Linked DNA regions of Homo sapiens: region 1 is linked to region 2. The links come from fine-mapping of genetic effects on gene expression. A gene starts in region 2. The other region holds a variant in brackets. All regions are shown on one strand. Distances are between the middles of the regions.

What was found.
Region 1: its variant is fine-mapped to the expression of KIF25 in nucleus accumbens (GTEx, PIP above 0.99).

The regions. Positions count from the first base shown.
Region 1 is chr6:168,041,162-168,057,150 of GRCh38, reverse strand. FRMD1 (FERM domain containing 1) reads left to right here. Exons shown (of 11, transcript NM_024919.6): 11 at 1-4,056. The coding sequence ends at 54. It overlaps LOC105378135 (a long non-coding RNA gene), which reads left to right and starts at 10,989. Exons shown (of 3, transcript XR_943283.2): 1 at 10,989-11,061; 2 at 11,373-11,513; 3 at 11,841-11,957. KIF25 (kinesin family member 25) reads right to left here. Exons shown (of 13, transcript NM_030615.4): 11 at 15,000-15,182; 12 at 14,435-14,590; 13 at 12,060-12,324. The coding sequence ends at 12,155. RefSeq lists an enhancer at 8,235-8,734. The variant C/A (reference allele first, on the strand shown) is at 6,810.
Region 2 is chr6:167,990,748-168,006,736 of GRCh38, reverse strand. KIF25 (kinesin family member 25) reads right to left here and starts at 9,066. Exons shown (of 13, transcript NM_030615.4): 1 at 7,867-9,066; 2 at 7,417-7,645; 3 at 4,078-4,194; 4 at 3,034-3,123. It overlaps KIF25-AS1 (KIF25 antisense RNA 1), which reads left to right and starts at 9,660. Exons shown (of 4, transcript NR_103750.1): 1 at 9,660-9,831; 2 at 10,136-10,499; 3 at 10,634-11,224; 4 at 12,273-12,550.

The DNA.
Region 1 (15,989 bases), 50 kb before region 2:
TGTCTCGCCCTGGACCTGTTCGGAGAGGCTCCACCACAGGAGTTTGTGGTGTAGGCACCACCCACCCAGCAGTACCGTCCGCACCGCCAGGCTCAGCCCCTGCCCACCCCACTTCCACATGGCCCTCGTCCCTTCCTGCCCGCCAGATGCTGCCTGCACTTCCGCAGCCAGCACGCTCCACAGGTTCACCTGTAAGAGGTGTGGAGCTGGCTCTGACATCAACCTGGGAGGTAACAAACAGGTCCCGCACCTCATGCCTGTCTGCCATACACCCGGGAGCTCTTTCCCTCAGGGTCTCAGGGAGCCAGTTCAAGGTCTGGCTGTCAAGTGTCCAGAGAGCCATGGTGTTGGCCCCTGAGGCAGCCTGTCACCCATCCTAATCTGGGAGAGAAGGTGACACAGCTGGGCCCAGACCCTGGAGAGACAGCTCTGCAGTTTCCCACACTGTCAGCTCCCCAAGAGACAGTCCTGATGGGCACAGGCTGCCAGAGCTCCCAAGCCGGAGTTCACAGTCATCACTGTGCAGGACCCAGGTTCCTCCCAGACCTGAACCCCTCTCTGCAACTCCTGTTTGCAAGCGCTGGGCCTGCCAGACAGAGGCCCCTCTTGTGGTGCAAGCCCAGCTCTGTCACCTGAGATCCAGCCAGAGACCCTCCTCCACCATCCACAGTCAATGGCTGTGCTTTCCCTTCCAAGCCAGGGCTTCCAAAGACCCCACTGCCCCGGAGCTGAAGCCGACTCTGCTCCCATCTCAGCCATGAGGCCTCAGGACCCACTCTGCTCACAGGTGGCTTCCTTAAGCCATTGCCCTGGCTGGGGTTGGGCTGGTGCAGCCCAGCTGGCGGAGGGGCGAAGCTTTGGTGACAGACGGAGAGTGGGGGACTAGCTGTGCATGGCACCTGCTCTGATCCGGTGGGCTCCACGGGTAGTGCGACCTCGGTTCTGTGGGCTCTGGAAGGCCACCAGGGTAGGGTCTCCCCAGGGCTCCTCCCCCTGCACAACACTCCTGCACACGTGCAAACCTGCTGTCCTCTGCATTTAGAGGAATGGCCCGTGCATCCCTGCTAGTCTCAGGCCCATCCCAGAGCACTGAGAGGCCACAATCGTTCAGCCCTGTGCCCTGAACACCACTGCCCCCTTCACTGTCTGTGTGTGGTGAAGACCACGCCACACCACCCTCCAGCTCACTGGAGACAAGCATGAGCTTGAGCCCCATGGCCTGGTGCAGGGCTGCGTGCATTGAGGCCGCCTCTTTGACGGGTCCATCCAGGGGGACCCTCTCCTTTCTGTGAAAGGGAATCGTGTGTGTGCCCCAGGCACGTGTAATAAAGAACCCGAGCAGATGCCTCCTGCTTGAACCAGGACCAGCCTGCCTGGGGGGCTGGTGAGATGCCGGCTGTAACTCACTCAGGGGCATCGGCCACAGAAGGCTGCGTTCTGTAGATGGCCACAAGCCCCAGTGCTGCCGAGGGCAAGACTGCCCACAATTCCTGTGCGGCAGGGGAGGTGCGCCTAGTGCTGGCTCAGATGTGAGCATGTGGGCACTTCCCAAAGCCATTCCCATTAGTACAAGATGATTGATTTGCCCCGCTCCGGGGCAATGACTATCTTCTTCCTTTGAAGAAACTTGGAAGCAAGAGCCCAGTCCCATGGACCATGAGGGAAGGTACACACCAGTGTTGGGGAGACACAGCAGGTGGTGTCCACCATGAAGCAGGGTCTGAGCCAAGACCTACATGCACACATGCACACATCCACATGCATGCACACACATACATGCACACACGCACACATCTGCACACAGATGCACACGCATGCACACACACACATGCACACATCCATACATGCACACTCCCCATGTCCAGGCTTCCCCTGCCAGTCACCTTCGCCACACGCCATAGACCCCAGGGGCAGCAAAGGCCGGGCCAGCCCACCCCTAACTTGTGGAAGCATCAGTGAAGCTGGCCCGGCGCCTTGTGTCCTGGCAGAGGCGAGGCAGCCATGGCCCCTGGCTGACCCGAGAAGCTTCTCTGGCCCCACTGGGGATTCCTATTTCTGTCCTTCCTCTGGGCCTTGTGGACAGACATGGAGAATTATGCCAGATGCCTGTTAACTACCGGGTAGGGCTGCTCCAAAGACTCTAATCTCTGGTGTTCAGGGTATGTGGAGAGGACAATTAGAGGCCCGCTGCCCTGAGACTTGCCCAAGAGGGGACGGCCAGGCAGGCCACATGAAGCCCATGTGGGCTACCAGCTCAGACACACCCAGCCGGGGCCGGGGCAGACTCCCCTAAGGCTTGAGCCTCAGCTTTGCTCACCGCCCCTCCCCACAGCCCCCTTCCACGTCACCCACACCTGGAGGGGCAGGAGCGGAGCTGGAAGCAGAAGGCCATCCTGGGAGGGGGCTCCTTCCCAGACAGAAAGCAGCAGAGAGCGGGGCTGCGGGAAGTCGGGGAAGCCAACCTTTCTTTTTGCACAGATTGAGATCAGAGGTCTTTTAGGCAATACGGCTATTTTCCAGAAAAATGGACACCGACTGGTAGGGACAGGGATGTTTCCTAAGAAGGAGGGTGGGGGGCAGGGCTGGGGGTGGCCTGCAAACAGCAGAAGCCGCTGTGTACAGGGGGGCTTGTGGCCTTCAGGTGGCATGAGGCAGGCCGGTGGGGGAGGGGCACAGGGTAAAGTCCCCAATCCCTGTCTTACCCTGTCAGTGGAGAGGAAAAGAAAACCACCTGTCCCAGTCCCTGTGGACCCCCAAGGAGCAGGCCAAGGACCTCCAGCATCACAGCCTCGCATGAGCCCGGCTGGGGTGGTCAGTCCTGTGGCCCGGGCCAGGTCAGCGGTCAAGCTGGCAGGTCCAGACTCGCAAGAACGACCCAGAGAGCTTGTTCAGGCTGGGTTTCTCAGCCCCCCACTGCGTCTGCTTCTGTGGGTCTCGCTGGGCCCCGGAACCTGCATTGCTGCTGCGGGGGTCTGGGTCTGAGGGCGCAGCTCTCCCTGCTGGGTGGGGTGTGGGAGGCGGCAGACCCTGCTCCTGGGGGCAGTTGGTCTGGAGTGGTGACAGGGTGGCCCTGGGCAGGGTGTGGCCGGTTCCCTCTTGCCTGTGTTGAAGCATGGACTCCTCTGGGCCCTCAGCCATCAGCCCAGCCTCCCTCACGGAAGATGGAGAATTCCAGACAAAGCTCATCCTTCCTCCAGGAAAGCCTGCTCCATCTGCAGTAATTGACGGCCTGAGAAGCTCTGCTCTTGGGCTGAACCCCAAGCAGGAGGAGGAGGCCGGGGTCCTCAGGTGCCCATCTGGGAGGCCCGGGGCAGCCAGCAACTGCCTGTGTGTCTGGGATCTCACAGGAGAGGTGGTTCCCAAGCCGAGCATCAGCCCGTCGTGGCCCATGGACTCTGGGTTCCCCAGGCGGGGGAAATGTGCCAGAGCCACGGGGAAAGCTGAGCTCTGCGGCCCTGCGAGTGCATTCACAAAGGTTTATCAGTTTGTAAAACTTGCAGAAAAAGCCGTCCGTGTTTGGGACAGGCGGCCCCTTCCACTCAGGGTTCATCCGTCACGCTCCTTTCGCCTTGAGGGGCACTGAGGGCCCTGTGGGTGTGTGGGGCCCGCGTAGGGGAGGCTGAACTGGACACACACTTGGCTCGGTCTGCTGGGAGACGTTTCGGGGTTCCCAGTCATGTCGTCTCTACCTGTAGGAGCAGCAGGGAGTCTCAGGACAGGATGGCCAGGGCCAGAGGTCACCTGGTGAGGCGGACATGTACTCCCAACCTGGGAGGTGTGGGGACTGGAAGAGAAACAGAGCTGGCAGTGGGAGGCTGGACGTGGTAGGCAATGCCGGTCCTGCAGCCGGGCCCATGACCGTTCTCACGGCGGCGAGCTGTGATGGGGAGGCTGCCTTCCAGGTGCCAAGGTTAGAAAACAAATCCGGGGCAGCCCTGCCGGGAGAAAGCTGGTATTCTACAAAGGCGCGTGAAGAGGTGAACACGCAGTGGGGAAAATGGCGCGGGTTAATTGTTTATTAATCACAGGCAGCTCACCAATAAAACCGTCACCAAATATTGTGTTACTGTGTTTTTCAGCTTTTTAAACTTTGTGATGTGGTGGTTTTTTAATGTTTCTGTATTTAGATTTATTTTCATACTTTAGAATTTGTAATCTTATCTTTTGCCCTGAAGGAGGGCTCCCCATCACCATCTAACCATGGAAGTTTCAGGCCTCAAAACGGGGCCCAGGGTGAGGACTCCTCTGATCTCAGAACCTTGGGTCACACAGCGGCTGCCATTCCCTGCTCACATCCCCTGGCTACGGATGAGGCCCCCGGGCCACTGGGCACAGGCTGGGGCTCCCTCCCGGCTCGCCGCCGGCCCATGCCTGGTTCTCCAGCCGCCCCAGGGTGGCAGTGTTCATCCTGAGTCCCCTCCTGGCTCTGCCCTGGCATCTGTGCTCAGGTGACCAGCCAGGCCTCCCGCTGGCAGGGGTGTGGTTCTCTCCATTCAGCCACTGCTGCTGTCACAAACCAGTGCACGCAGCAGGAACTGGACGTCACCGTCACCAAGTGGGGACCTGTTCGCCGCACCCTCTGTTGTCTGTCCTTGGACATCAGGGCCATTGTCCGCCCACAGCCCTGGACATCCACGCTGTTGGGGCGGCGGCAGGGCCTGGCGCAGTGGGAGAAGAGGAAGAAGCATGTCCTCAGAGCCAGATGCAGGAGTGTGCCCTGTGGGGTGCGGGCCAGGCTCCCTCCTGAGCGGACATGGGAACACGTAACAGTGGGAACAGGCCGGCCTCCAATGGGGGCCTCTGCAGGAGGTGGGCTGGGAGGAGGACGCGCCTCAGGAGCCTCCGGGATGCTCTTTATGGCCAGGCACGGTGCTTCACACCTGTAATCTCAACACTTTGGGAGGCCAAGGTGAGCGGATCACTTGAGACCAGGAGTTTGAGACCAGCCTGGGCAACCTGGCAAAACCCCATCTCTACAAAAAATATAGAAATAAAATTAGCCGGGCATGGTGGCGCCTGTGGTCCCAGCTACTCGGGAGGCTGAGGTGGGAGAATCACTTGAGCCCAGGAGGTCAAGGCTGCAGTGAGCTGAGATCATGCCACTGCACTGCAGCCTGGGCGATGCAGCAAGACCCTGTCTCAAAAAAAAAACCAAAATGCTCTTTGTTCTCTGAGGAAGGGGCTGCCCAGCAGAAGGTGGTGGGAGGGCATGAGGCTTTGGCAGCCCTGACAGTGCATGGGTGGAGTGCCCACCTGTGGGCTGGGGTGCAGGTCTGGGAGGCCGGCACTGTCCCCCTCGGTGGCAGGTGTGTGAAGTGAGGCATCCAGTGGGGGTCCGGGGCCGCCTCCCCGCAGCCTGTCCTTGTGTTTTGCTTCTCACATGTGATTCCTGGGAGCAGGTGCCCTGGGCTCCCAGAGAGGCTGCAGGACACACACCAGCCCCGGCGTGTCCACTGCACTGTGTCTTCCCTCTGGTCACTACAACAGATCTTCATAGGCCGTGTGGCCTCACTCTGCCCACTCCTCATGATTCTGGAGGCTGGAAGTCCAGGATCGAGGTGCCGGCCAGTTCCATTCCTGGTCCAGGCCCCCTCCCTGGCCGCTACGTCTTCTCAGGGCGGAAGGGGCTTGCGAGCTCCCAGGGCCCCCCTTACAAAGGCACTAATCCCACCCGTGAGCCTCCATCCTCACAACCTCACCGGCTCCCACAGGCACCCCCTCCTAACACCATGGCCTTGCTGGTGAGGATTCCCACACAGACGTCGGGGGGCGCACTCAGCCCACCCTGCATTACACGCTGGGACACATCCGGCTCATCAGTCTCCATCCCGGTCTTGGGATCTTCAAGGCAGGAGCCTCCGGCCTTGACTGCAGTTTCCTCGGTGCCAAAGCAAGACCCCGGTACAGGAGGCAGCCAATAAATGGGCACAGAACAGGTGAAAGAGGGAGGGAGGGCCAGCGGATTGGTGCTCTGTGCACCTCAGTGGGCAGGGCTGGCTTGCTCTGGCTGTGCTAACTGTATACACCTCCTTGTCCACCCAGGCTGAGCCACAGTCCACATGGCTGTGATGGAGCTGAAGCCCCTGCTGAGGGGCAGCTGGCGTCCGGCCACGCCCACCCCACATTGTTCTGGCCCCCCCCACCCCATCCCGGGGCTTGCCCGAGGAGCATGGCTGAAACTACAGAACGTCCCTAGCACTTCAGGGAAACAGATGTAAAATATCCGTGGGTTTTGGCCAAGCTCCACCAAGAAAGGAGAAGGTCCAGGGAGTTATGAGACCCCCAGGGCGTCGGTCACCCAGGTCCTGCCCACTGGGCTAACAGCTCACTGGCCTCCCACAGCAACACCCCCAGGGTCAACATTCCACCACCTCGGTCTCCACAAATGAGGTGTCTTCCATTTCTGCTAACTAAGCAAAGTCAGCGACTGGATTACAAGTTCCCAGGCCCAGGGCCTTGGCCACGGCAAGGCTGCTGGGCTCACACTGTGCTGAGGAGGCCACGGCTGCCCCAGCCACACATGGGCCCCCGGCTTGCCCTCCGTGCGCTCCTCCTGCCTCCTCCGACCGCTGCTCTTTCCCCGAGTATCAGGGCTGGGCCAGGCTGTTCTCGAAGTGAGGTCTGCAGTTAATTCGGATTGTGAGACGAGCCTGGTCCCAGACAGTCCTGAGGGAGCATCCAGGGCCGCAAGCCTCACTGCACGGCCTCCCACCACTCCCCAGGGCCTGTTCCTGGCTACGGGGGAGGGGCACAGGCAGCCTGCGGAGGAAAGAGCAGGCAAGAGAGATCTGGGGGAGCCAGGCGTCCCC[C/A]CCATATCTGGCCCCCTCCTGCCTCACACTAAACGATGGCCAGGGCGGGACTCTGGGCACGCAGGGACCTCCGGCGAGTACCAACAGGCCCGGGGGCTGGTGTCTGTGACGCTCTAGGACGGCAGCGTGCGCCCCTCACAGGGTAATTATAGTACAGATCACTCGGTCCGGCACAGGCAGACACTTTGTCATTCCCCCTTTGCCACTGTGGACCCTTCAGGCCTCTGCACAGAGGCCGCCCCCGCAGGGAAGCCACCCCGGACCCCGAGATGGGGCCGGGCCCCTGTGGTTCCGCTCTAACAGGCGCCTGTCGCAGCTCTCACACCCTGGGTGGCTGTGGTGTCTTCTGTCCTCCCCATTTGGGCTGTATTCCCCGCACAGTCTCCACGTGCCACCTAAACCTCTGCTGAGTGTTTCCTCCCACAGATCACTGGCAAATCTCTTCAAAACCAGCGGCCTCTGACCCGCTACAAGCTGAAGAGGACAGGGTGTTTCATTCCAGCCTTGCAGTGTCCTCTGGACGAAACCGCATTTGGCACCCAGAGCTGCCCCAGCCCTGGGCCCTGGGCCCCCACCCCACCCCACCCCCACCCTGGCCCCCGGCAATCTTCCCTCCTCGGGGCCTGGGCTCCTTCCCTTCCTCCTCTCCTCTCCTGAGCCTGCCCATGTCACAGGTTCTGTGGCCAAACGGCCTGAGGGAGGCAAGGAGGGGGTGCTGTCCAGGTTCAAGGCGCCCCTCCAAATATGCCTCGTCCAGCTGTGAAGCTCCCAGACATGTCAGCCCTGGGAACATAAACCTCGCACCAGAGTCACGCACTCACCCCATAAGGCGGCTCTCGTGCATGAACAATTGTGCCGTAGGTCAGCGCTGGGGAGGTCTGGTTGTGCTCAGTTTGAGGAAGCCACGAGTGTTTCTGGAGATGCATTTCTCCGTGGCGCTGGGACTGCCCTCCAAAGGTCCACGTCTGTGAGAGAAGGAGCCGGACCACGACTGAGGGGCAGACGCTCCTTCCCGCCCACTCACAGGCGCTGCGAGTCAGTAAGTACGTGGACTTCCACAGCCTCAGCGTCCTTGCTTTTCAAATGGGTTGATCCTAAACACCTTCAGAGGCCCTGAGCCAAGAGGAAGAAGCTAATGAACATGAAGATAGTAACCCCAGAGCAGAGCTGTTAATTGATGGGACGTCTTTGAGTTTTAGTCACTGACTAGTTTTGGGTTTTTTTTCTGTATGTTTCCTGGGTCCGTCCCTCCCTCTCCCTTCTTAGGGGCAGCGTGTCAGCACCACGGTGATGGGCCACTGAAATCACTGGTGGTGGCCAGCGGTGGGGTGAGTGCCTGCAGCCCCACACCCTGGAGACTGGGCTGGTTTGCTCTGAAACCCTGGCACTCTGGGTGTGGCCAAGTGGACCAGGGTGAAGACTGGGCCCAGGCTTCCTTCTAGGAAATGAGGAGTTGGGAGTGAGAGGCAGACGAAAACCTGGGAAGCGAGGACTCAGCTGCACGCCCTGTGATGGGGCAGAGGGTTCCAGTCTGCAGCGTGGGGGCGTCGAGGGTGGCAGGCAGTGGGGTCCGGTGCCTGGGGCCCAAGCGCCCCCCACGCCCACTGCCCCAACTCCCAGTCTCTGTAGACGCCCTTGCTCTAGGCTGTGACTGGCAGGTTCCTGAGTCACTCGCGCCTCTGCCATCCCGCGTAGAGGCTGGCCAGAGCCGGTCCAACACTTCCCCAGAGGGAAGCTCTGCCATTTTCACACGGTGCCCGTCTCGGGGCACCACTGTGGGCCCCACGCAGCTGTGGGGCGAGGCGTCCACGCATCCTCTACAAAGGCAGCTTGGTTATCACAACGCCGGCCTTGCTCAGAGAGGAACTTCATCAAACACACAAAGAAGGCTTGTCGAGTGTCACGCGGCTCAGCCAGGCTGTCCCTTCGGTCACGCTATGGCAGCAGCTCGGGCCCTTCAAGGTCAGAAGGAGGACGGCAGGGCCTGGCGGCAGTTGTTGCTTGGCACTGCTGTTCAGTGCGGGCTCCACAGAGAAGCTTCCATCTCACCAGAGCTGCCACCTCCTGAGTCCATCATTTGTGCGTTGGTGTCTCTGTCCTACTAAAGGAACTTCGCACCTCAGCAAGCCGGTGAGGGGCTTCCTGAGCCAGGGGCATCTGCCTGCCTAAGGGCCAACCCTAAAGAGAAGTTTGATTTTATTTTGGGCACTGAGGGAGCATCTCAGAACCTGTGGGGTCATTCAAGTCATCACAATGATGAGGGGACACAAGTGACATTGAGCAGACAGGCACCAAGGACGCCAGGTCCCCATAAGGCACAGGACACTCCCACCCAGCAAATACTGTCCCGGGGGCCACGTGGCTTTAGCCCCCGTCAGACATTCACAGGTGGAAATCCTGCATTTGGTGATCCAGGCCTGAAACCTCACACTGCTCTCCATAAAATCAGGAAGGATTATTTCTGCAGTTTTAATGTACATTATGTGTCAGGAATGCAACAGTTGTGTAAACCAAGAGAAGCTGAAACTTTGTAACATTACCAAGAGGTTTTCACCATGTACAAAATTATATCACATTGCTATACTGCTGGTGACATGTGAGTCACAAATGGGACACTTGTGACAATTCCATGTCTGTGTGTCTGTCTGCTTTTTGTAGCGGCCACATTCCTGGAGATTTTACATGCATGTACGTGCACACACACACACAGATACAGTCACTTGGCCCTTATTTTTAAATTGTCGAATATACATAAATTGAATATTGTCTTCCTTCTTATACCGAAACTCATTTACTTCGCTGTGTGTTCAGATGTAGTTGTTTTGAAAGTTTTACGAATTGAAATATACTTATGTGTATATACACAGAAAAAAACTTTTTATTTCTCCATTATATTTTTATTTTTATTATTTATTTATTTGAGACTGAGTCTCGCTCTGTCGCCCAGGCTGGAGTGCAGTGATGCGATCTCGGCTCACTGCAACCTCAGTCTCCCAGGTTCAAGTGATTCTCGTGCCTCAGCCACCTGAGTAGCTGGGATTACAGCTGCCACCATGCTCAGCTAATTTTTGTGTTTTTAGAAGAGACGGGGTTTCACCATGTGGGCCAGGCTGGTCTCAAACTCCTGACCTCAAGTGATCCGCCCGCCTCGGCCTCCCACAGTGCTGAAATTACAGGTGTGAGCCACCGCATCTGGCCTATTTCTCCATTATATTATAGTTACATCATTATATTGATTCTTTTTTTTTTTTTAAAAAAGGCATGCTCTGTTAGGATTATATAATCTATGTATAATTTCACTTTAGGATAATCAAGGGATCCTTAAAAATAGGTGGTGTTACAAAATGGAGGCATTTGTCTGTGGGGTTCAGCACAGGGCTAGGTGGGCTGCCCACCTGTGGCCCCCTAAGCTCGCAGCCAGCCTGTGCTGAGGGGCGCTGTCAGTCAGTGGGAAACACACCAATTCTGAAGACTTAGTGTGGACAAAGAATCTTGAATATCTCATTAATATCTCTATATTGATTTCATATTGATTACACATTGAAACGATCATATTTTTTATATATGAGATTAAATCTGATCTATCTGCTGATGAGTTTATCATCCATGGATCTACAGATCTGCCATCTGTTCACTGACTGATCATCTACCATCTCACCATCATCTCACCTATCTACTGTCTATCATCTCTACCCAATTATATTAAAAACCATGAGTTGAAGCAGATGTCTCTGCTTTCAGCCCCACTGGCTGAGTCCTTTCCTGGCAGGGAGAAGCCCAGCATCTCTGTCTTCAGCGCATGATGCCCCGTGCACCTGCCCTCCTGGCCACCCTGACTAAAAGCTGGACCCCAGCAGCCTGGGCCAGGTCCCCACTCGCAGTGAGGCAGAATGCTCCGCCCTGGGAAAAGGAGTACAGGAAAAGGCCGTTAGCACACTGGGCTCTGAACACCCCCTGCCTGTCTCCACCCCTTGCTCTGGGCTCCCAGGAAGGGAGGGGGTTCCTACCCTTCTGCCCGCCATGAGTCAGGACCACCACAGCTCACGCTCCTCACCTGAGCCGCATGTGGGCACAGGTTTACTTGGTTTGTGCTAACTACTAGAAAAGACATTTTACCTCCCTCTTGCATAAACAGGATAGAGTAAAAAAAAAAAAACATTTTCCTGGCATTGAAATCATCTGAAAGCTACCAGCTGTGACTCCTCTCCAAAACCTGCTTCCCAGCCAATTCTCAGAGCCAAAATGGTTGCTGGTAAGAAATGGGGTATTCTTGGTCTGTGCTTGTGACCCCCCATTCCTCCGCACATGCGTTCCTCCTGGGACCCTGCTCTTGGATCTGCTGGGTCCGAGAGGGTACATCTGTCACTGCGGGCCCGGTGGAAATGGGGGCAGCCCCAGGGGGCACCCTTCCAGCAGAGGACGCGGTGGGCAGCTGTCACCATGCATCCCCTTGTGAGGCGGAGAGGAGCCCTGTGGTGGGGTGGGGCTTAAACGTGCCAGTTCAGCCCCACGGCAGGGGAAGTCACAGGCCAGTCTCCAGAGCTGCTCCTTGTCTCCTTTAAGGCTCCCAACCCTCTGGTTTCACCTGGCTTTGCCGAGGAGGAAGCCAGGCTTTAGAGGCCAAGCAAACCGTCCAGGGATGCAGAGCTGGGAGGTGGCAGAGCCACCATGGAAACCAGAGTCCATCTGGTCCTGGAGCCTGTGGTGAGGAATCCTGGGGGCCGCGTTTGTGTCAAATGAGACGACAGGTTCGTGAGGCTGGCCCCAGACGCCCCCTCCCTGCCTGGCACAGCTCCTCATGCGGAGTGTGGTGGACAACCAAAAACAGTGGTGAAGAAAGAGGGAGCCTGGGGGGAAAGGAAAAGCACGAACTCGAGGAGGCGGAGGTGGCAGCTCTGTGTGAGGCCTGGTGGCTCTGGGGCCGTACGTGCCCAGCAGCACCTCCCCAGCTCACGGGTGGGATCTGCACTGGGCCCAGGCTGACCAGCTCCCACTGTGGGGCACTCACGCCCCCTGCCCTCCTGCCCACAGCTACTTCTGCCGGCTCCCGAGTTTCCCGGGGCAGGGCCTTCAGGGCCCAGGGTGGCCTCTGGGGAGAGTCTGATGAGGACAGCGAGTGCCTGCTGTGACACCTGGTGGCCGCCGCACTGCAAGGAGCTCCTCTGTGAAGCCTGCCCTGCCTGATGGTCTGGCAGGAGTTGGAGGTCCCATCCACATTCATGAGGGTGCTTTGGAATAAAGCCAGGTTTATTGAGTCCACGTGAAACCTGTTTATTTCTAAGCACATATGCATTATAAAGCAAGGACAAGAAACACAGTTTTAGGAGAAAAACTTGTTAATGCATTCAATCCGGCCTCCTCTTCCCCTCCGTTTGGGAGCTGGGCGGCTTCTTTCGGGCAGGGCCTCGCTGGACTTGCCGAGCTCGGATCCCGAAACCCAGGCCCTGCAACGTCTGTGCCAGGTGCCTCTGGCTGGGAGAAATGCAGAGAATCACCAGTAACTTCGCATCGCCTCCTTTAAAATAGAAAAACAACATGCAAGCTGGAAAGAAGAGCAGCATCTGAAAGTGCCAACATGCCAGCAACCAGGGCCCGAGATGGGCGGCTGCAGAGAGGGCCGCCCGGCGCCCCAGCGGGAAAGTGGCCACGTCTGGCAGGTTCCTGGGACGGGGGTCCAGGAGGGTCAGCAGCCGGTCACTAGCGCCCCTCACCCGGGTCCGGGAGGGTCAGCAGCCGGTCACTAGCACCCCTCACCCTCCGGGAGGGTCAGCAGCCGGTCACTAGCACCCCTCACCCCGGTCAGGGAGGGTCAGCAGCCAGTCACTAGCGTCCCTCACCTGGGTCCGGGAGGGTCAGCAGCCGGTCACTAGCACCCCTCACCCAGGTCCCGGAGGGTCAGCAGCCGGTCACTAGCACCCCTCACCCGGGTCCGGGAGGGTCAGCAGCCGGTCACTAGCGTCCCTCACCTGGGTCCGGGAGGGTCAGCAGCCGGTCACTAGCACCCCTCACCCTCCGGGAGGGTCAGCAGCCGGTCACTAGCATCCCTCACCTGGGTCCGGGAGGGTCAGCAGCCGGTCACTAGCACCCCTCACCCTCCGGGAGGGTCAGCAGCCGGTCACTAGCACCCCTCACCCTCTGGAAGGGTCAGCAGCCGGTCACTAGCACCCCTCACCTGGGTCCGGGAGGGTCAGCAGCCGGTCACTAGCGCCCCTCACCTGGGGAAGCTGCAGGCCTTCTACTCACACTCCTGTGTCCCGGGAATTGGGAGGTATGAAGTCAGCCCTAGGTTGAGTCTGCACATGACCCTGAGGGACGCTCAGCCCCCTGGGGCTGTTCTTTCTAGATCTCCCTCATGCCCACACCTGCTGCTCACGGCCCATGGCCCTGTGGCTCCCTCAGGCCCCCCTGGGGCAGGGGCCGTGTGCCCAGGACTTCTCCTCCTGAGGAATGCTGTCTCTTCCTGTTTTTCAGGACCCGTAACGAGGGTTAAGAATTACAGATGAAAACCAAAAACAGTGGAGAAGGAAGGGAGAGCTAAGGGGGAGGAAAAGTGCAGACCCCAGAGGCCAAGGCCAGGGCTCCATGAGGGACCTGCTGGCTCTCAGGTACTGTGTGCCCCACGGTGCCGCCCCTGAGATCACGGGTGGGCTGTGCCCCTGACCCAGGTCGCCCTGTCTCTCTGTTGGGGCTGCGAACTTTGGAATCCAAGAGTACCAGGTGGTCTCTCTCTTAAAGGCAGAATCCAAAAATATGCTCCTGTGAACAGCCCTGTTATTCACCGTGTGGAGGAAGCCAATTTGCCATGAGAGGGGGAAATACCCCACAATGAGAGACAGGGAGAGTGTCTGGAACATTCCAGCCTCCCCGAGTCCCGAGCACCAGCGGCCCCTCCACCACCTCCCAGGGTGGCCCTCCCAGGAAGGAGGAGCCCCCCGACTGTGGTGGCCATGTGCCCCTGCCGTCCTGCAGTGGCCGTTTCTCAGGACACGGCCTACAGGGCCCAGGGCCACCTCTGGGGGACTCTGCCTGCACCCTGAGTCAGGAAGAGCCGCAATGCTTCCTCGGGTCCTCCCTTTCAACCAGTCTGGAGTCTGAGTCGGGGGAGGGGGCACTAACTGAGCTCCCCAAAAACCGCAAAGCCCAGATCCAGCCACAGCTGGATGACTCCACACAGGGGCCGCCTGTGCCCCACCTGGCACTGGTGCTTAATCTGTTGCGTCCAGGCTTCTGGCACCTGCCCCCAAAAGACCCAAGGAACTTGGGGCCTAAGCAGGTCTACACAGCCGGAGGGACCCAGGCCACACATGCAGCAGCAGCCTAGAGAGCCCTCAGCTGCTCTGGCGGACCCCTGGTGAAGAGAAAGGCCAGGGCTGCCACCCTTGAGAAACTGAGCCCCAACCAGGAGGCAAGTCACACACAGACCGAACAAGCACACAATCAGGCCAAGGTGAGACGGCGCAGGAGAATGACCACCGTGCCGTGGGAGTGCCAGCTAGCCACAGCGAGGACACAGGAGGTGCAGGGGGTGCATGGGTGGCCCTCGAGGACGTGCAGGCCAGAAGTGTGTGCACATGTCCTGGGGTACGTGGTCCCCCATCCTGGGGCATTTTGGGGAAAACGGTTACCGAGGCAGTCCTGAAGGAGGTGGGTGAGCCTGCTGTTCCGGTACGGGGCATGGCCACGGTGCTCCAACAAAGCCCCCAGGACGCCTGCCAGGGCCGCAAGGCTGCGGCTGATGCACGCCATCTCCCTCAGGGCCAACCCGGTCACTCCAGACACACCTGGACAGGACCGCCACGCACCATCACCGTTTGCACCAAGAAAGGAGGCAGGAAAAGCAAAACCGGCTCCTTGGGAGGAGCGGCTCTCAGGCAGGTAGAGGGGAGGCCATGGACGGGACAGGCATGAGAGTGAGTGTCTTTCATGGCTCTGCTCACAGCTCAAAGCGAGCTCCTGCTGGGAACTCAGGTTTTCTGTTCCCAGAGGGCCCGTGTGAGGAACACGACTCTCGGGTTGCCGGGGTAAGAGAACCAATCCCTGAGAATGTAACGGGATTTGGAACTCACCTGTGGAGGGGGAAATGCCTGGCTCGCCCAGAGCTTCCCGGGCTGCCTGGTTGCACATCCAGCTCCATCAGATCATAGGCTTCTGCAGCACCCACCCCCCAGGGAAATGCCTGCCCCTGCTCACCAACGCACTCGCTGCCGGCCGAGTCCACGAGCTGTAGTCGAGCCTGCACCTGCTCCGCATGCCCTGCGGGGTTCCCAGGAACCAGCTGTGGAGCCAAGGCCCCTTGAGAAGCTCTGCGGCTCCTTCCTGCCCTTCCTGCCTCTGTTTGCTCCCTGGGGAGGGTGGCACTGCAGGCTTGGTCTGCTGCAAGGGACCAAGGAGCGACGAGGAGGAAAACAGTTGCATGAAGCCATGAGGCTGTGCTTTGCCTCAGTCAGAGCCGAGAAGCTTCTGAACTGCACCCTCCTGCCCACACCTCCCACCCAGTAAGAAGTGGGATTTCCGCAGAGGTCCAGGGGATAGTGGCTTCTCTGGGGGAAAACACAAGTTAGAAAGCAGCTTTCTTCACTGTGGAAGGTTGAACTAATGCCTAATTGGCCCAGAGGAAATCAAATAATGCTTCTTAGGAAGACTTGGTAATCATGTTAATTAAAATCCCACTCAGAAAATCTATGAGCCCTTTTAGAAATAAATTCTACAATCTGTTCGATAATCTTCCACACAAATCCTAACAAAAGGGCTCTTAATTTTAATGCAAATGTCTTTGTAGTGTGTTATTCCTAAACAAACTTCTTAGGTTTTTTAAAAAAGCAAAATAACATTTATTCACTGTGCAAAACATAGAAAGTATACACAATTTTTTTTAAAGGACATGAAATCCGGTCTTATTCCCACCACCACTGGCAGCCACACCGCCCCTGTATCGGGAGCGTTTTTGGTAGAGATTGTTGGTGTTCCCTAAACATCACACGCCTGTGCCTTTCCAGCCCCTGCGGTACAAGGCCGTGTGCCCAGCTGTGGCCCACTCTGGGCTGGCCAGGGGCTATTGTCAGCACCTCCCCGTCACCTCTCCTTCCCTTGCCTGAGCAACCTTGGAGGCCAAATGTTTCAAGTGCCACGGTGGCAAGAAGGATGGGGAATGTTCAGCCACACTGGCCTTCAATATGAGTG
Region 2 (15,989 bases):
AATGGCCATTGTGTCCTACATGACCTGAGATTTTCCTGAATTCAAAATTATCAATGTTAGTGAAGTGTTTAGCATTTCATGTGCTTTCTAAATTCATCTTGTGATCACCATAATAAGCTGAATGAAGGAGAGGCCCAGCATTTTTTTAACTGTTCTCACTGGGGACTTTGTAACGTACACAGAAATGGGGGAAACAGCACAAGACGTCCTCAGGTGCAATCGCCCGGTGCCACAAGTGTGGAATATCCGGCCAGTCTTGTTTCACAGACACTCCTGCAAAACCCACCTCCCTTTCCTCAGCATACTGTACATTCAAAACCAGACAACAGATCGTTGTATTGCTGAGTATTACAGGCTGCATTTTTAAATGATAAGAACACTTTTAAAGCACAATTTGCCCGGTGTGGTGGCTCACGCCTACAATCCTAGCACTTTGGGAGGCCAAAGCAGGAGGATCACATAAGCCAGGAGTTCAAGACTAGCCTGGGCAACATAGTGAGACCCCCCCATCGCTAAAAAAAAAAAAAAGAAATAGAATACAATCACCATGCCATTCATCACACTTTACAAAATTAATGTCACATGGAGAGTGGCAGAACATGTCACCCCAAAATATGCCACTTTGGCATCAGGATTATCTTTACTTAAAGGTTCCTGAGAAGCAGGAGGCTCATGCAGAGCACTCCAGCTTCCCCTCTTCCTCCTGCACTGAAGGCAGGACCTGACCCTCCCATGAGAGCCGCCCTTGCTGGGCCAGGAACAAAGCATGTTCTCGTCAGTAGATGGGGTCTGTGATGGTTAATACCGAGCGTCAACTTGATCAGCGGATTAAAGGATACAAAGTATTGATCTTGGGTGTGGCTGTGAGGCTGTTGCCAAAGGAAATTAACATTGGAGTCAGTGGGGTGAGAAAGGCAGACCCGCCCTTAATCTGGGTGGGCACCGTCTAATCAGCCGCCAGCAAATATAAAGCAGGCAGAAAAATGTGAAGAGAGAGACTGGCCTAGCCTCCCAGCCTACATCCTTCTCCCGTGCTGGATGCTTCCTACCCTCGAACATCGGACTCCAAGTTCTTCAGCTTTGGATCTCGGACTGGCTCTCCTTGCTCCTCAGCGTGCAGATGGCTGTTGTGGGACCTTGTGATCGTGTGAGTTAATACCTAATAAACTCTCCTCTACATATGTATCTATTCCATTCGTTCTGTCCCTCTAGAGATCCCTGGCTAATACAGGGTCGAAGCTGAGCAGCTCTGCACAGACAGACCTGTTAGCACAGCCCTCGCCTTCCCTCTGTCTCCCATCTCATTTGGTTGCTTGTCCACAGTGGCCTCTGCCCAACCCCGCAGGGCAGCGTGCAGGCTGTGCCACTCCTCAACTCTTCATTTTCCGGGGGGCTCTGTGTCAGGTAGACCCCACATTCAACAAATCCGATGCTCTTCCCCGTCAACCTGCCTTAGGCCAATTCCATTCTCAGGCTCCACCAGGGACCCTAGGAGGATAGAGGAGAAGGTTTGCCCCCCTATATACCCAGGACACATTCGGACTTCCCCCACTGTCCCAACAATGCCTGTGACAGTCAGCTCGTGCATGCCAGGCTTGCCTGTGACAGTCGGCTCGTGCACGCCAAGCTCGCCTGTGACAGGTGGCTCGTGCACACCAGGCTCCAAACCAGGACACACTGAGGCTGACACGTCTCATTCTACTGTGTCCTCCTGCCTTTAAAAACAAAAGTTATTACTAGAGAAGCCAGGCAGTCTGTTCTGTGAAATGTCCGCATTCTGGCTTGGCAGATGGTTTTCTCTCCTTTAAAATGACTGTCCCCAAGACTTGATTAGATGCTGGTTTGATTTTGAAGCAAAAGTGCTTCATCAGTCCCACTGTGTCCCACCTGCTGCACCACCTCGGGACATCATGTCTCTGCATCCCAACTTCAGGGAAGCTGCGAGTGCTTAGAGGGTTTGAGGCAACCCTGAACCCTCGTCGTGAAGATCCTATCAACCCCTGAGCAGCGTCCACTCAGGAGAAAGTGCTTAGAGGGTTTGAGGCAACCCTGAACCCTCATCGTGACGATCCCATCAACCCCTGACCAGCATCCTCTGAGGGCCTAGAGTCACCATTTCATTGGGGGTTTCAAATGATGGTTTTCCAGTTTTATCATTTGTTGAGTTTATTACCTAGAATCTTCTGTTCCCTCAAAAACCATGCATCTGCCCTGAGTATGTTTCCTACAGGAAGGACATCACAACCCTTTTCTCTTTCTATCACTTTTTGGAATAATGAGTTGATGTTCTAGCACCCAAAAAATTAATGTGAGGTCTTTTTAAAAACTCATTATTATGAACTCAAGATTGTACATATAATTATATATTTCAATCTGCTTTAGTCCCTCCTTAATCCCCAGGCTTCTATCCCGCGTTGAGGGAGTGCCTGCCGTGGGCTCCATGTGCTGGGACAGCCCCCGTTCTGTTCTGAGGCCTCCCTTGCTGTTCAGCTCCCCAAGTGCCCCAGGCTCCTCCCACCCACTTCCTTTCCTGGCCCAGATGCGAGGTGTCAAATGAGCTTTTCTCCTGCAGTGGGCTTGGTACTCAGACACCCCTGGGGTGTTGGGCTGCTCCTTCTGACTTCTCGGCCTTTTCGTGGATAAAACTAAAAAGCAAGGAGGCTTTCAGGAGAAACAAAATCATGCTTGATTCCAGTTTAGAATCACAAAGTTCACCCATGATATCACTGATTTTATATTTATATCTCTTTTCCTGGTGCTCTAAATTTTAGAACTTGCTCATATTTGCACTGATTGATCATTTGGGCTGGAAAATAAATGGAAGTGAAGTAACTTCCTCACATAGAACTACGGGTCAGGAGCTGGTTTCCCACAAGGAAAGCATGTCAAATGCTTAATTTCATGTTCCAATAGAAATCAAGGAACAAAAACAACTCTTCTTAACTAAGAAAGCCTAAAATAAATTATTTTCTATTTATTCAGTCTCTGAGTTGCTCTCCATTGTAGGGATCTGTGGGGACTACGGACACCCACCAAGCAGGAAGCTGCTCTCTGAATACAATTTGTGAGGAAACTTGTAGACTCAGGTCATCAACAGCATGGGCCGCTTCTCTAGAGATGGAGCTGAGGGAATGAAACAACATTGAAAATACACATCATGAAGAAATTGCTTTCTGAATTCCTAACATTCAGCCTCTAAAACACCCTTGTGTTTCTTCGCCATCATCTCTGTCTCTGTCCTGGTCACTCTAAAACACCCCTCTGCTTCTCTGCCATCATCTCTGTCTCTGTCCTGGTCTCCCAGGACACTGGCTTGGCTCCTCTTCCTCCTCTTCCTGTGTGCATGGATCCACCCTTCCATCCTTTTCTAAAACTCCACTCGTCCTTTTGGACCTTATGCTTTTTATTTTTTTTACTCTTTACTTTTTATGTATTATTTTCTTCTCTTCCCCACCCCCTTTTGTCTTCTCTTGATTTTTTTACTCCAATACCCCTGTTCTTTATTTCTTGTTTTCATCTTCCCTGTCTGCATTGCATGGGAGAGTCATCCATACTCCAGTAAGAACGCTTAAATATCTCCTTCATGCGCAGTTTAGAGCGGTGGTGATACAGAACAAGGGTCCCAAATCCCTGGCCATGGAGGCCTGTTAGAAACCAGGCTGCACAGCAGGAGGTGAGCGGTGCGCAAGTGAGCAAAGCTTCTCTGAATTACAGCCGCTCCCTATCACTGGCATCACTGCCTGAGCTCCACCTCCTGTCAGACCAGCAGCAGCATTAGATTCTCTTGGGAGCACAAACCCTACTGTGAGCTGTGCATGTGAGGGATGCAGGTTGCACACTCCTTATGAGACTCTGATGCCTGATGACCTGTCACTGTCTCCATCACTGCTAGATAGGACCCTCTAGTTACAGGAAAATAAGCTCAAGGCTCCTACTGATTTTACATTGTGGTGAGTTGTATTATTATTTTGTTGTATATTACAGTGTAATAATAATAGAAATAAAGTGCACAATAAATGAAATGCAGTTGAGTCATCCTGAAACCATCCCTGCCCCGGCCCGCCAGTTCGTGGAAACCTGGTCTTCCAGGAAGCTGGTCCCTGATGCCAAAAAGGTTGGGGACCACTGATCTAGAAGACAAGCTCATCAGGTTCTCCCCTTCAGGAAATCAAGCATCTGCAAGCCATCATGAATCTGAAAAAATGCAACATGTTTCAAAACCAAAAGCCGATGAACACAAACAATGTGCCAGTCCACACACACGTTTATGGAGCTTCTTAGGAAGCTCTGAGAAGCCAAACAGCCCAGAGCCGCACCATCCAGGAGAAAGAAGCCTCTGGGACTATGGAAACTTGCCTGTCTTTCTCACCTGCCCAAGGCCACGCCTCAGGTGTCTTCTCACCTGCCCGAGGCCACGCCTCAGGTGTCTTTCTCACCTGCCCGAGGCTACGCCTGAAGGTGTCTTCTCACCTGCCCGAGGCCATGCCTCAGGTGTCTTTCTCACCTGCCCGAGGCTATGCCTGAAGGTGTCTTCTCCCCTGCCCGAGGCCACGCCTCAGGTGTCTTCTCACCTGCCCGAGGCCACGCCTCAGGTGTCTTCTCACCTGCCCGAGGCCACGCCTCAGGTGTCTTTCTCACCTGCCCGAGGCTACGCCTGAAGGTGTCTTCTCACCTGCCCGAGGCCATGCCTCAGGTGTCTTCTCACCTGCCCGAGGCCACGCCTCAGGTGTCTTTCTCACCTGCCTGAGGCTACGCCTGAAGGTGTCTTCTCACCTGCCCGCGGCCACGCCTCAGGTGTCTTCTCACCTGCCCGAGGCCACGCCTCAGGTGTCTTCTCACCTGCCCGAGGCCACGCCTCAGGTGTCTTTCTCACCTGCCCGAGGCTACGCCTGAAGGTGTCTTCTCACCTGCCCGAGGCCATGCCTCAGGTGTCTTCTCACCTGCCCAAGGCCACGCCTCAGGTGTCTTTCTCACCTGCCCGAGGCTACGCCTGAAGGTGTCTTCTCACCTGCCCGCGGCCACGCCTCAGGTGTCTTCTCACCTGCCCGAGGCCACGCCTCAGGTGTCTTCTCACCTGCCCGAGGCCACGCCTGAAGGTGTCTTCTCACCTGCCCGAGGCCACGGCCTCAGGTGTCTTCTCACCTGCCCGAGGCCACGCCTCAGGTGTCTTCTCACCTGCCCGAGGCCACGCCTCAGATGAGGCTACTGCAGCTGAGGAGCCCCATTTCTGATGGGATTTCATTTGCATTCATTTGCATGTATGTGCCTCTTATGGTGGGAGGCTCGCAGGGAGGCTGGTGTGTAACAAAAGCCGTCTGGAAGTGCCATGTAAAAGGCAAGTTCAGGAAAGCTGATCACCGCTGGGGGCCATTAACTACAGGCTGAGCATCCCTCATCCAAAAACCTGAAATCCAAAATGCTCCAAAATCCAAAACGTTTTGAGCACTGAGATGACGCTGAAAGAAAATGCCCACTGGATTATCTTGCTGAACCGGTCCATACAAAACACGAACATTCGAAAATATGAAACAATTCAACATCGGAAACACTTCTTCTGGTCCCACACATTTTGAATGAGGGCCACTTGGCCTGTCCCGCGCCACACTGACGTATCCGACAGGCCCAATTTCCAGTCCTTTGACAAGTGACAAGTGGCCACCAGTCAAAAAAGTGCAGAAAGTACTAGAGCCAGCACAATCATGTCTAAACACTTTGAAAAGAAAAAGTTTCAATGACTATCAAAAGATCCGAATTTCTTGTTTCACACTGTAGAACCGGCCAAGTGCTTTCTAAAGACCTTCTCAAGTCAGGTGCTAAACTGCAGGATGCAAACACTGTGAGGCTCAAGCCAGGCCCTCCAGGGAAAGCTCATTTGGACAGATTAAGTGGAGGAAACCAAGACCAGAAAAACAGCCTGAGCAAAGCAAAGTCAGGAGTGGGACCCAGTGCCCCTAGCAAACTGGTGCATACGGCCAACCCCATATGGCGTTGGGACAGCCGGGAAGCGCAGCACCTTGGAGTGGCGGGAGGGTCAGCAATGGGAGTGGGGAGGGCCAGGTGTGGTCAGGATGGGAGTGGGGAGGGCCAGGTGTGGTCAGGATGGGAGTGGGGAGGGGCAGGTTTATGGAGGGAGGGTGAGAAGGTCAGATGTGGTCGGCAATGGGAGTGGGGAGGGTCAGGTGTGGTCAGGATGGGAGTGGGGAGGGGCAGGTATAGACAGGATGGGAGTGGGGAGGGTCAAGTGTGGTCAGGATGGGAGTGGGGAGGGTCAGGTGTAGACAGGATGGGAGTGGGGAGGGTCAGGTGTAGACAGGATGGGAGTGGGGAAGGGCAGCTTTATGGAGGGAGGGTGAGAAGGTCAGGCGTGGTCGGGATGGGAGTGGGGAGGGCCAGGTGTGGTCAGGATGGGAGTGGGGAGGGGCAGGTGTGGTCAGGATGGGAGTGGGGAGGGGCAGGTTTATGGAGGGAGGGCGAGAAGGTCAGGCGTGGTCGGGATGGGAGTGGGGAGGGGCAGGTGTGGTCAGGATGGGAGTGGGGAGTGTCAGGTGTGGTCAGGATGGGAGTGGGGAGGGTCAGGTGTAGACAGGATGGGAGTGGGGAGGGTCAGGTGTAGACAGGATGGGAGTGGGGAGGGTCAGGTGTGGTCAGGATGGGAGTGGGAGGGTCAGGTGTGGTCAGGATGGGAGTGGGGAGGGTCAGGTGTAGACAGGATGGAAGTGGGGAGGGTCAGGTGTGGTCAGGATGGGAGTGGGGAGGGTCAGGTGTGGTCAGGATGGGAGTGGGGAGGGTCAGGTGTGGTCAGGATGGGAGTGGGGAGGGTCAGGTGTGGTCAGGATGGGAGTGGGGATTTCCAGGGGGTTTGTTTCATGGGGAAGGAAGTAAGTCATATTGAGTATGGTTTTCAAGTAAGCATTTGAGTAAATGAACTTCAGATAATTTTGCTGTATCCATGAATACCATCAAAACTTTCTCTAAGTCAAAAGTATCAGTTGAGTCAATACTCACTGACTGCCTGCATGGCGGAGTGGGTGGTCTTTGGGGTTCATAAAGGCAGGGTGCTCCCTTTTTGATATAGTGACATAAAGGGAAAAGTCCATTCAAAGCCTGTCCCTGTTCGGTCGGACCCCGCAGAGGCAAACCACGAAAAGACGGACGCCCTCTCAGGTGCAGAACCACTACCACGCACGAGAGGCCTGCTCAGGCAGTTTGGCCTTTTGCAGGCCGTATTACAGAGGGCTGCAGAGTGTCCACTGTCAGCAAGACAGCGCCATCCTTAAACAGAGCCCCCACCCACAACTCGAGAATGTCCTGCTTTGGGACCGGGGACAGGACAGTAGACGGCATTTAAAATTGTGCCACTCCTCTGTCTTTTCCCTGAGCACACAGACATACACACACCGTGCAAACACAGGTTACCTGCTCTGCAAAACTGGATCGTCGGATTCACTATCAAAAGGCAACAAAGGACGAATCCGACAGTGAACTCTGATATTTCGTTTCAGCTCCTGCAATGATCAAGAGGTCTGCGTGTCAACCCGGGCGCGAGCCTGCACTGCGGAGCATCCCCCACTGAACGTGCACCGGGCACCAGCTCCTGAGACGCGGCCGTGAGATCTGCAGCACCTGTCTCCACTTCGAAAGACCCCTGCAGGGTAGTGAACAGTTATTTTATTTATTTATTTTTTGAGCCAGAGTCTTGCTCTGTCGCCCAGGCTGGAGTGCAGTGATGCAATCTCAGCTCACTGCGACCTCCGCCTCCCAGGTTCAAGTGATTCTCCTGCCTCAGCCCCCAGAGTAGCTGGGATGACAGGTGCCCACCACCACGCCCAGCTAATTTTTGTATTTTTAGTACAGAAGGGTTTTTACCATGTTGGCCAAGCTGGTCTCGAACTCCTGACCTCAGGTAATGCGCCCGCCTCGGCCTCCCAAAGTTCTGGGATTATAGGCATGAGCCACCGTGCCCGGCCATGAACAGTTATTTTAAACTTCTGGATTCATACTTCACAAATGTGTTCACTTGGCAAAGGGGTATCCCTTGGTAATAAGTACCAAGGAAAATCCCTTTGAATGGCATCCTGGGCTCGACATTTTAGGCATTTTAGAGGGGATTTTGGAAATTCAGTATCTGTCATATTTCCTTGATTTAATGACTGGAAGGAAATTAGAAGCTTTTTATTCTCATAAACTCCACTGGTTTCCAGTGAGCAACACATCTTCTCCGTATGTGCTCAGAACTTGCCAAATCCATTCTGAAATCTTGTCTTGGATCCACAGCAAGTTTATCCACCCTGTCATGCTGAGCAGCTCCTTCTACATTTTGAAAACCAAGTGGGTGTCATAGGCCAATGATTTACAGCCTCCGTCTGGTCTCTATGAACCCACAGAAGCTGGGATCAGCCTCTGCCTGCATATTCTCCATGGGCCGCGCACTGCACGCTCCTCAGCTAGACCAGGAGACCAGGCTTGAGGTGGAACACTCAGAAACTTCCACAACCAATTCTTCCTTGTGGGACTTGACTCCATCTTAGGAAGGTTCATATTATCTTTTTCATGCTCCAGATTAAAAAAAAAAAAAGCTGCAGCGTAGTGAGACTTTCTGAAGTGCCAGGTGCTTCACTGATATCTCCCTTTGTCTTTATAGCAACCCAGAGAGGTGGTGCTATTGTGAAGATTAAATAAGAAAATACACCAAATGGTTTCAAAAGTACTTGGTACACAGGAAGCACTCAATAAATGTTCTCTTATATCAATGTTTGGAGCACTGAACTACATAAGTAGATGCTTAAAATGAGAATTATTCTTTGACACATCTAACAGCTGGAGAACCTCTCGGCATGGCCAGGGAAGAGAAGCTTCGCAGGAACACTGGCTTCGTGGGCCTCGGGCAGGTGGAATTCGGAGAAACTGGCCAAAGTGCAACCATCAAAATCAAACCTCACAGAAGCGAGGGTCACCCACTCAATCATCCACCTTGGCATCCTCGTGTTGCAAAATCAAACCCTGAGACTTTACATTAAATTTCATGGGATCTCAGGTCTCATACCTTCGACCAAGAAAGCACGAGAGCCTCTGGGTCTTGTTAATGGGCAGTGAGAGACGTGGGTGGAAGGTGCTGGTGAGGAAGGGGCAGGGGCAGGGGCAGGGGCAGTCTCCACCGGCATCTCCAGTTACAGCAAAATCCTTGCTTTTCCCGCGCAAGTCCCCATCTCTGCAGATTCCCCCGCCCCCCATCTCTGCAGATTCCCCCGCCCCCCATCTCTGCAGATTCCCCCGACCCCCCATCTCTGCAGATTCCCCCGCCCCCCATCTCTGCAGATTCCCCCGCCCCCCATCTCTGCAGATTCCCCCGCCCCCCATCTCTGCAGATTCCCCCGCCCCCATCTCTGCAGATTCCCCCGCCCCCATCTCTGCAGATTCCCCCGCCCCCACCTCTGCAGATTCCCCCGACCCCCCATCTCTGCAGATTCCCCCGCCCCCCATCTCTGCAGATTCCCCCGACCCCCCATCTCTGCAGATTCCCCCGCCCCCCATCTCTGCAGATTCCCCCGCCCCCATCTCTGCAGATTCCCCCGCCCCCATCTCTGCAGATTCCCCCGCCCCCAACTGCCCGCTACAGCTCTTTCCTTGTGCCTCACAGCAGCCGGTCCCACTTCCTGCATCGCCACCAATGTGGCCCAGGCCACCAGCCCCCGTGACACTGCAGCCATCCCCTTTGCTCCCCGTCGTGGCCTCCCGACCGAGCAGCCAGAGTGACCCCGAAAGCCTAAATCAGCCTGCGGCGCCCTCACCCGTCCTCCAGCTGCCATCGCCTCCTGGGTGAAGAGGACGCAGGTCGCAGCCCCCGCAGCTCTGCCCCTCTGCCCTCCGGCCAGGCCGCCCCGCTGTCCCCCTTGCTGTCCACCTCTCTGTCCACCCCTGCTGTCCCCCCCCGCTGTCCCCCCCGCTGTCACACCCCCGCTGTCCCCCCCCCGCTGTCCCCCCTGTTGTCCCCCCGCTGTCCCTCCCGCTGTCCCTCCGGCGAGGAGGCTTCTGCACGTTCTGCGTGGGCCTCTCCCCGGGGCCGCCCCAGGTCTCCCCTGACGCCCACACCCACCACCAGGCTGTTGTGCGGGACCTTCCTTCTCTGCCTCTCCAGCTGGTGACGCGCACTGACGTCCTGCAAGGCCCGCTCCAGGTGCGCCACCTTTGACTGGCATGCTGAAAGGACAAAGGGACGGAGGCATTTTACCGGAGAGGACATCCATGGGGCCCAGCAGGTCAAATTCCTTTCTCTAAGTATGGGAGACATTTTTAAAAATAATGGAGTCCTCCAGGGCCGGCTGCGTGCTGTGGCCTGTGCTCCTCACTGCTTTGGACCCAGGCTGCGCTGTCTCCACCACGACCAAGGACTCACAGAGCTCGCCTGGGGGACCTGGCCCCACAGTCACCCCGTCCGTCATCAGCCTCAAATGCCATCAGCCCGTGAATGCTGCTCCATCGTCTGCATGGCAGCCAAGGAGGTCTCTGCTCCTAAAGCACCTGGGAGCCCTTGGTGAGGGGGGAGTGGGGCAGGGAAGGAGATGCTGGGGCCCAGCTCTGCTGCTGTGGATTGTTACAGTGGCCTGGGCCTCTACTCCCGCCTCTGTCCTACCAGGATGGTGCCAGGTGATGTGGCGATGAGTGGGCATCGCGTGGGGGCCTTGGACGAGCGTGGACACCCCAATCCCCAGACTGGCCATTGCCGTGGAGGCAGCGTGAGTGTGACATGGAGCTCGGTGTCGTGCTGCAGAGGACGCCTCGCGGCTGTACGCGTCATGATAGCCAGGGACCCCTCCACATGTCACTTAGCCAAAGGATGCAGCCCAGCCTGGGGCTTTCTACCCCAGGCCCGAGGACCTGCAGGGACAAGGACCCCTCAGCGCAGATGCAGCTCTCATGAGGCCTGAAACCAAGCTGGACTTGCAGAACTGCGCACGCTCCCTTTCTGAAAGAAACACCCGTTACCGGGTCCAGACTGAATGTGGGCGTAAGAAAGCGGGAAGGGTCCCCCACAGCAAGAGAGAGACCCTCCCAGTCACTTGGTCATCTGAGCCTTGAGTGTGTCCGGCCCCAGCCACCAGCCTGTCCCCACTATCCCTCTTGTCAGCACGGCTGAAAGGAGCTGCCTGGGCACCTGAGGTGGCTGAGGCTCATCTTTGAGGAGCATGGAACTCGAGGGGAGAAGTCGCGCCCCCAGGGAAGCCAGGTAAGGAGGCCCCGAGCCCCTGAGCCTAACGCCTGGGCACAAATAAGCCGCCTGGGGACCCCTCTGTGTGGCAGGACTGCACCGTGGCTCCCACAGGCAGGGCCTCAGCAGGCCCTGCCTCCTCACACGTCAGCATTCCCTCTGCGGGAGAGCCTTGGCGGCTCCCTGCTTCTCCCTTTGAGTTTCACCTTTTCAAAGCTTAAGTACACTGCTTTTCACAAAATAACATGATTGTCCCTTTCCCTGGAGCACATGGCTTATAAGAACACAGGCGTTGCCGGCTGTGGTGGCTCGTGCCTGTAATCCCAGCACTTTGGGAGGCTGAGGCGGGCAGATCACCCGAGGTCAGGAGTTCGAGACCAGCCTGGCCAACATGGTAAAACCCCATCTCTACTAAAAATACAAAATTAGCCAGGCGTGGTGGCAGGCGCCTATAATCCCAGCTACTCGGGAGGCTGAGGTGGGAGAATAGCTTGAATCCAGGAGGCAGATGTTGCAGTGAGCTGAGATGGCGCCACTGCACTCCAGCCTGGGCGACAGAGTGAGATTCTGTCCCCCGCCGCCCCCCGCCCCCCAAAAAAAGAACACAGGCATGCACACGTCACTCCTACAAACACGGCCTTAGGGGAGTTACTGAGCAGAGTGCACTGAAGAAAACTAGGCTACAGCAGTGATTTCAATAAAACATCATGTAGCCTCGCAGAAGATCAGTACAGGTTCCAAAGTTTCCACACACCTATTTTGGAATATCAGCAGCACAACCCTTGACCAAGTTCCTAACTTGACCATCATCTCTTTGGCCTGTGGACACACTGAACACTGGGCAGAAGCTGTGAGCATGAGACGAACGTGGGGATGGTGCTATTTGGTTCTTTTGTTTTTTTGAGACAGAGTCTTGCTCTGTCGCCCAGGCTGGAGTGCAATGGTGCGATCTCGGCTCACTGCAAACTCTGCCTCCCGGGTTCAAGCAATTCTCCTGCCTTAGCCTCCCAAGTAGCTGAGATCGAAGGCATGCGCCACCACACCCGGCTAATTTTTGTATTTTTAGTACAGACGGGTTTCACCCTGTTGCCCAGGCTGCTCTCAAACTCCTGGCCTCATGTGATCTGCCCGCCTCGGCCTCCCAAGGTGCTGGGATTACAGGCATGAGCCATCGGGCCTGGCCGGCTAGTGCAATTTGGACGATGAGTTTAAAACTGCAGAACCAAAGTAACCTCTTCCACAGGCTTCAAGCACAGTAGCTGAAGATAATAAATCCATTATAACAAAAGAGTAGCCAAAATGCTGTGGCATTCTTAGAAATGAAGAAAGAACTGAACTGATAAGACAAAAAAAAAAAAATCTCACGTCATATTATAGGAAACTCTGACACAGAACGCCCAACGTGGACACAGGTGCCAGTTCAGCAGTGACCGTCAAGACCGGGGAAGTGCCCTGTGGTGACCAGGAGAACAAGGAGCTCCTCCAGCAAGCAGGGCTGCAGTGGGAGCTGGGAGGGAGCAGTGCACCTGCCAGCGTGGCCGAGTCACACAGTGCCTGCCCTCACCTGTGGAATTTGGTGTCAGCTAAAAGGAAGAAGAAATGGAAACTTAAATTCTAGCCGGTCATTTTCTTAAAACTGCAAACATTTCTCTCGAGTGTGGACTGGCCCGGCTTCGGTGAAAGGTGCCCTCCTACCTAGCAGGGTCTCGGCACTCTGCTGTGTTCTTTGCACCGCGGTCACTATTTCAGAAACACGGTCCTGATACTCATCCTGATAATCTCTTAAGAGCGCCCGAGAAGAAGAATGAAACGCCTGTATATCCTGGTTAAGTTTCTATAAAATAAGAACATACACGATTCATAAAATTATATGATTAATGATCACAGTATAATTACATAAGAATTTGTTATATATGTTTCTATAGAATAATAACATACCCACACAATTAATATAAGGGATATGTTGTTAACTGGAAGGGTGTAAAGCAGAAGTTCTTCGGCCCGGGCCTGTCGATGCCCGCCAGGACTGTTTTCATGCTGCCTGTGCCTCGGCTCACTTACAGAAGTTCTGACTCAATACATCTGGGATTTCTACTTTCAAAGCAGTACATGTGATTTTATGCCCTTAAAGTATTTAAGAAACAGAAAGTCAAGTGTTTCACCAATTTCCGTAGGAAGGGCCGCTCACTGCACGGTGGGGCGATGCTGGGCGCGAGCCGTGTTTCCGTCTATTGTTGACTTCCTCACGATGCTGGCTCAGGCTCAGAGCCTCTCATCACCGCCTGTGAAATGGGGACCACCCTCCTAATCTACTATCCAGACCTGCCTTCTGGAAGCTCAATTATCACGAGCACATGGTGGAAAACGTGGGCCGGTGAAAACAACTTAACATGTAAATGTACATAATAAAATTCCAGGCACAATACATATGAACGCTTTTAGAGAACTTTGGGAGCAAAGCAACTGATGTCCTGCGTGGAAAGTCCTCTTCTCCCCATGAAATTATCTCAAGGATCTTCCATGGGAAGATGTGACAGAACCAGGACACTACTGCTTAATATTTAATATCAGATACTCTTAAATCACAGGAGCATAACTAAAGTATTCTTCGTTTCTTTAGTCAAATCTCCTTTTCTATAAAATGGAGACGGCTTTCATATGTTTGGGAAACATTTTAATAACGAATTAATAAACATTTTAATATCAAAACTAAAGTGTTTTTCTTATATGGAGTACAGATAAAGTTATACATACAACTTATTCAATTAATTTTATTCAGTTGGAAGAGAATGAAAATTAATTTTATATAAATCTATTCTAAATACACTAATGCAGCTTACGAGGGGGTGGGATATCTCTAATTCTGACTAACATAGAGAACAGATTAATCCTGTTTACAGATGTTTTATTGTTGTAGTAATTATATGGTCACATTGTTTAAAACAAAAGGTAAAACAATGTTCTCAACCAAAGGTATAAAAATATCCTCCTACAAGCTCACCCTGGAGAATTGCCAAATATACTATAGGGAATAACAATTTTTCTAACTTTCTAGAAATTATTAGTAGTTTAACAGGAGCTGTTCACATCTGATGACATGCTGTACCAGATCTATTTAGTCTAACATGTATAAACATGTTTTCTACCACTTAACATTAAAATTAAATTGAGAACTTTGATTAACTAAAGTAAGATTTTAGTTTAATGATTTAATTTGATTAACTAAAATGAGAATTTTGACTCAGAAAATTGAACTGCTACCACAGCTATTTGAAATAATTCATTTCATGGACAAAATGTATTTTTCCTTCTGATATTTGCTCAGAATCCCAATCCTATGTTTTGTTTTGGTTTTAGGTTTAGTCTTCTGTTTAGTGTGTATTAGAAAGCAGAACTCCCAGAGTGAACAACATCTGCAATTGATTATGAAAATAGTAACAATTTTGGCCAGGCGAGGTGGCTCACGCCTGGAATCCCAGCACTTTGGGAGGCAGAGGCAGGCGGATCACAAATTCAGGAGATGGAGACCATCCTGGCTAACACAGTGAAACCCTGCCTCTACTAAAAATATAAAACTTAGCCAGACATGGTGGCAGGCACCTGTAGTCTCAGCTACTCAGGAGGCTGAGGCAAGAGAATCACTTGAACCGGGGAGGCCGAGGTTGCAGTGAGCCAAGATCCTGCCGTTGCACTCCAGTCTGGGTGACAGAGTGAGACTCCATCTCAAAATAAATAAATAAATAAATAGAAAGAAAGAAAAGAAAAAAAGAAAGAGAAAATAAGCTGGGTGCGGTGGCTCACACCTGTAATCCCAGCACTTTGGGAGGCCGAGGCGGGCGGATCACGAGGTCAGGAGATCGAGACCATCCTGGCTAACACGGTGAAACCCCGTCTCTACCAAAAAATAGAAAAAATTAACTGGGCGTGGTGGCGGGCGCCTGTAGTCCCAGCTACTCCGGAGGCTGAGGTAGGAGAATGGTGTGAACCCAGGAGGTGGAGCTTGCAGTGAGCCAAGACTGCGCCATGCACTCCAGCCTGGGCGACAGAGCGAGACTCTGGTGTTTTTTTTTTTTTTTTCTAAAAAAAGAAAATAGTAACGATGGTATACTCTTTTAAAGAAGACCAGATTGGGCCTGTGATGGAAACTTGTATCTAACACACGAGGGGCTTTCCTGGTTTCAATGAAGGCTTCTTTTACTTCCATAAGATTACATGTCTTTTGACAAGCATAATTTAAACCATTTCACCAGAAACAAACATAAACATTCACTGCATGAATTAAAACTCTGGCTTCTGGTGAAGCTGTTTTTACCTGAATGACATGACCCAGCTGGCTCAAGGCTGAGCGTGTGTTTCTCTGCAGACACTGCTGTTTGTTGTACAGGGTGGAAATCCGCGTGGCCTCACTGCGACTCTTTTCAATCTTTCCCTTGTACTATTGCATAGAAAATAATCAAAGACAATTTAAAGTCTTAAAACCTCGAAGCTGAAGCAGAGGAGAGCTGAACCTCTCCTCTTTCCTCTGAGAAGAGAATGGTTGCTGATTGTCCCAGATGCACCTGCCCACGTAAGAGAAGACACCACCCCTGCATGGGACTCACTGCAGCAGGGAACACGGTGGGGACAACTCCAGGTGATCCAGGGGCGCGCGGGGCACGGAGCCACAGGAGCCGTCGGGGAGGCATCCCCAGGGCTGAGCCTGAGGGTCCCGGCCAGGTGCGGGGAGGCAGAACGTCCTGGAAGAGGGGCTGCGTGTGAGGCCCGGGATGCCCACGTGTGACTC